Linked DNA regions of Homo sapiens: region 1 is linked to region 2. A link means that fine-mapping ties the variant in region 2 to the expression of a gene that starts in the linked region. Tissue or cell type: blood mononuclear cells. Region 2 holds a variant in brackets; the other region holds the start of a gene. All regions are shown on one strand. Distances are between the middles of the regions.

Evidence for each region. PIP is the estimated chance that this variant, and not a neighbour inherited with it, causes the effect.
Region 1: it holds the start of TRAPPC6B, and the variant in region 2 is fine-mapped to the expression of TRAPPC6B in blood mononuclear cells (TOPMed, PIP above 0.99).

The regions. Positions count from the first base shown.
Region 1 is chr14:39,169,137-39,171,898 of GRCh38, forward strand. TRAPPC6B (trafficking protein particle complex subunit 6B) reads right to left here and starts at 1,197. Exons shown (of 6, transcript NM_001079537.2): 1 at 879-1,197. The coding sequence starts at 959. RefSeq lists enhancers at 655-1,244, 1,004-1,053, 1,835-2,424.
Region 2 is chr14:39,193,920-39,196,681 of GRCh38, forward strand. No RefSeq gene overlaps it. Among named protein-coding and RNA genes, the nearest start is that of PNN-AS1, 19 kb to the left of the region's middle. The variant A/G (reference allele first, on the strand shown) is at 1,236.

The DNA of each region.
Region 1 (2,762 bases), 25 kb before region 2:
AGGGCTCCTGACTTGAGCATGACTTTGGAGTATTTCTAAAATCCGTTACAACTCCATGATTCTACCAGCCAATACTCAGTGTTAACTATTCATTAAATCACTATTCCCTAAATACTGTGAGGCAGGAGTATTATTTTATTTAATTTATCTAGCAGTGTCAGCAGTGACAGGCCCACAATGATTGAATAAGGACTCCCACATATTAGAAGTAACCGCTACATACTATCACATTTCGGATTAAATTAGATTAAAAAAAAATCTCTACAAGGATGGGGCCATTGTTTCATTCACTACTATATCCCTGGCACCTAGAAATCGCTCTGACATAAGGGCACTAAATAAATACTTTCTGAAATAATTAATTTAAATTATGTTCCCTAATTATCCTAACGCCTGCAAACTTTCCTTTGCAAACTCAACCTTCATTAGGCTTCAGGTCTCAAGTTGTGTGGAGTTGTACTGAGCATTAGGAATGAGGAAGGAGGGACAGGCTTCTCAGGTTGGCACAGGTCTGTCCAGTGCATGGCTCAAGTGCTGGAAGTGCCAGCAAAACTAAGTAGGCTCTGCAGTTAACCCTCTCGTAAATAATGGCAGGGACAACACTAAAAGTACCAAAATCTGTGGCGTGCAAGACAAACGTACGGGAATAGACAAAAGAGAATCAAATAGAAGAAGATACGAAAGAGAAAACGATGAAAGATGACGGTTCAAAGGAGACAACTGACAGGTTCTAGGGTTTAGGACACCTGGAGGTGGACCATTTTGTGTACACCTCGGGAGGCGTCGGGTGGCGATGGGACAGGGGTTGAAGGAAAGCACTGAGGGGAAACAAGGTGTGTCACCGCAAAAGGACCTCAAGGTTGTGTGGCAGCACTCACCACCTCCCCCTGCTCCGCGGACTTGTACACTCCAGACACCATCTCGTTATGGAGAAGCAAAAACAACGCCTCATCCGCCATTTCCTGCTAATTCTTCCAAGCTTCGAGTTTTGGCTCCCGTTTGAGCTGGTCTGGGGGTTCCAGCTCGCGCCTCAGCGACTTCGCCGGCGCCGCGGCTCCGTCAGGCCGCCATTCTATCCCTGTGGCTAAGAGACCGAGGTATTCACACGACTTCCCAAAGGCTGGTACTGAAATGAGTCTGGTACTGGAGAGAGCCCACACTTCGGGGCTACCAAATCCTAGGGCCGAACTAAAGTCTGACGGGAGCTCTAACCAAAGCCAACCAGCTGAGATGCGATCCGGCCGCTGGGCGGGGGCGAAAAAAACAACTTCCGGTCCCCTCTACCCCGGCATTCGGCCAGCTCTATGATCACTGAGTTCCTCTCTCCCAAGCCCGGAGAGGCCAGCGCCCAGATATGAGGAAGGTTCCCCTCTCACCACGATGTCGGGGGCAGAGCAAGATAAAATAAGACCTAAAGCTCCCGCCTGGCCCGGGCGCGGTGGCTCACGCCTGTAATCCCAGCACTTTGGGTGGCGGAGGCGGGTGGATCACATGAGGTCGGAAGTTCGAACCAGCCTGAGAAACCCCGTCTCTACTATAAGTACAAAATTAGCGGGGCCTGGTGGTGCATGCCTGTAATCCCAGCTACTCGGGAGTCTGAGGCAGGAGAATCGCTTGAACTCGGGAGGCGGAGGTTGCGGTGAGCTGAGATCGCGCCACTGCACTCCAGCCTGGGCAACAAGAGTGAAACTCCGTCTCAAAAAAAAAAAAAAAAAAAGAGCTCCCGCGGCCACCTCCTTGTTAATTAGCAATAGAAGTTAAAAAAATTCTTTTGGCTTCATCAAAAGCATCCACTTCCTGCCATATGTTCTTCAAATATGAAAAGTTGTAGAAAGAGTTTAAAATATACGTTTTCACAGTGCAAATTTTTTAAATATTGAAAAGTTATCCCAATTCCTATTGAATTAAGCCCGGGTATACAAAAAGAATTAGAGCCATTTTGACCACCAGGAATTTTCCTGTTAGTGGGGTGCAAGGGACAAGGGAAGTGGAGCAAACGAAAAACAAGATACACTTGAACCGGAAAATACAGACTAATCAGAGGATTAGGTGAAAAGTGCTATAGAATTCAGAAAAGCGATGTCACTGCAGGATGGAGTTGCTAATAATCTACAGCAGTGTGAGACAACTGTAGGAATTGTCCCACTGCATGTGCAAATAAATACACATGCTACATCATAGTATGTACATCTTAAATTTGGCAAATTCAACCGTAAGCATGTTGCTTAGCCTGTGATTAGTTCTTCCATTGGTAATTCACAAAACAAAATTTTTCCCCAATTGTCCCTGTTGTTTTCCCCCAAATTAACATACCGCAAGGTGGCTCATGCCTGTAAAATCCAGCACTTTGGGAGGCCGAGGCACGGGGGGTGGGGGGGATCACGAGGTCATGAGTTTTGAGAGCAGCCTGGCCAACATGGTGAAAACCCGTCTCCACTAAAAATACAAAAATTAGCCGGGCGTGGTGACAGGTGCCTGTAATCCCAGCTACTCGGGGGGCTGAGGCAGGAGAATCACTTGAACCTGGGAGGCAGAGGTTGCAGCGAGCAGAAATTGTGCCACTGCACTCCAGCCTGGGCGACAGAGCAAGACTTCGTCTCAAAAAACGAAACACACACACAAACTCTTCATGCCCTTTCACAGGAATTTAAGATCATGTTCCAAAATTTTAATTGTGGTAGGTTTTTTTTTTAAGCATGTCCCTTCTAATGTTTGAATCAGTTTATTCCATTCATCACGTAAATCCAGCATAAAAGCTCCAC
Region 2 (2,762 bases):
TGCCCGACCTGTTCTAAGTATTTTTGAATCTATCTTTCACATTTTTATGTCTCTCTATTCTGAATTCTGTATAATTTCTTTATATAAATTTTCTAGTTAATTAATTTATGTCATAGAATTGCACGTGTTTCCCCTCAATGAATATTCAAACCACTGTTATTTTATTTTGTTTACATATATATGTGTACACACCTCCTCACATATGGAATCTGCCATTTAATCCCAGCACTTTGGGAGGACAAGGCGGGCAGATCACCTCAGGTCAGGAGTTTGAGACCAGCCTGGCCCACATGGTGAAACCCCATCTCTACTAAAAATAGAAAAATTAGCCAGGTGTAGTGGTGCAAGCCTGTAGCCCCAGCTACTTGGGAGGCTGAGGTGGTAGAAACACTTGACCCAGGAGGTGGAGGTTGCAGTGAGCCAAGATCATGCCACTGCACTCCAGCCTGAGCGACAGAGACCACATCTCAAAAAAAACAAAACAAAACAACAACAACAAAAAAAACCCTCCAATTAAAAATATAGAAAACTCGGCCGGGCGCGGTGGCTCACGCCTGTTATCCCAGCACTTTGGGAGGCCGAGGCGGGTGGATCACGAGGTCAGGAGATCGAGACCATCCTGGCTAACACAGTGAAACCCCGTCTCTACTAAAAATACAAAAAATTAGCCGGGCGAGGTAGCGGGCGCCTGTAGTCCCAGCTACTCGGGAGGCTGAGGCAGGAGAATGGCGTGAACCCCGGGGGGCGGAGCCTGCAGTGAGCCGAGATCGCGCCACTGCACTCCAGCCTGGGTGACAGAGAGACTCCGTCTCAAAAAAAAAAAAAAAAAAAAAAAAAAAAAAAAAAAAAAAAATATATATATATATATATATATATATATATATATATATAGAAAACTCTTTAGAAGCAAAAGTTTTGATGAGAGGTATTCTTGGAAAATGTTACACAAGCTGGGTGTACATTTCAAGTGCACAGTAGCCTCAGTGCCGCTACTACTCTTGAAGTTTTGCTTGTAGTAGATTTGGCTAGAACTATGCATTTTTCCTAGTTAACTCCAAGTTCACTGAAAATTTCATGTATCTTGTTAAAAATGTATTTTCTTTGCAAATTAATGTCTTCTCAGTTATAAGTTTAAATATGACAAAGAATAAGCAAAATAAGTCAATACAATTTGTAATTCACCTTCTAATACCATCATGTTGGGGGTTGGAATTTCAACATATGAATTTGGGAGA[A/G]ACACAGATATTCAGACCATAGCAAAGTCGTAATTCATTAGTATGTAATTTTTTCAAACAGAATTCACTTTATCTCTACTTGTCATCCAGTTAAAACATTTTACTATGTAATATTTCAGACAAGAAAAAATAGCCAAAATTATAGCAAATACTTATGAACCTTATCATCTAGTGAAATAAATAAAATGTGATAAAAAATTAAAGTATCCTCTAATTTTATTTAGTGTGTTCATTTCCCTTCCCCCAACCACCCAGAGTCAATTATGTTTTCTTATGTCTTTGAGTATATTAAATCCATCACTTTATAATGTCTTTCAATAAGAGCACTTTTCTCATCTTGCCTAAATTAATTAATTACTCTCAGAGCTTAACCAAATTTTCTCCAATATTATGTGAGCTTCACCTTTACTCTCCGGCAATTTTTTTTGCGGGGGCGGAGACAGAGTTTTGCTCTGTCTCTCGGGCTGGAGTGCAATGGCAAGATCTTGGCTCACTGCAACCTCTGCCTCCTGGGTTCAAACGATTCTCCTGCCTCAGCCTCTCAAGTAGCTGGGATTTCCGCCACCACTCCTGGCCAATTTTTTTTTTTTTTGAGACGGAATCTCACTCTGTCGCCCAGTCTGGAGTGCAGTGGCGCGATCTTGGCTCACTGCAAACTCTGCCGCCCAGTTTCAAGTGATTCTCCTGGCTCAGCCTCCCAAGTAGCTGGGATTACAAGCGCCTGCCACTGCGCCTGGCTAATTTTTGAAGTTTTAATAGAGAGGGTTTCACCATCTTGGCCAGACTGGTCTTGAACTCCTGACCTCATGATCCACCCATCTCAGCCTACCAAAGTGCTGGGATTACAGGCGTGAGCCACCGCGCCCAGCCCACTCCTGGCTAATTTTTATGTTTTTAGTAGAGACGGGGGTTTCACCACGTTGGCCAGGCTGGTCTTGAACTCCTGATCTCAAGTGTTCTGCCCACCTCAGCCTCCCAAAGTGCTGGGATTACAGGCATGAGCCACCTGGCCTGGCCTACTCTCAAGCCTATTCTCAAGCAATTTTGAAACTGACCTTAAAAGCAAGTTTGAAGCAGTTATTTCTGGATATTTTATTTTAAATCGTGTATGTTTTTGCTTTAAAAAATGTTTCGGTTGGGTGTGGTGGCTCATGTCTGTAATCTCAGCACTTTGGGAGTCCAAGTCAAGCTGATCGCTTGAGTTCAGGAGTCAAGACTAGCGTGGGCAACATAGTGAAACCCTGTCTCAAAAAAAAAAAAAAAAAAATTTGCCGGGTGTGGTGGTACGCACCTAAAGTCCCAGCTACCTGGGAGGCTGAGGTAGGAGGATCGCTTGAGCCCAGAAGGTCAAGGCAGCAGTGAGCCATGATCGCACCACTGCACTCCAGCCTGGGTGACAGAGCAAGACCCTGTCTCAAAAAAATTTTTTTTCATTGTTTTGTATAAAAGAAAAACTGTAAAATAGACATTCACTTTCAATCTCATTCTCCAGAAATAACTGCCATTTATACGTTAGGGAACATTTTC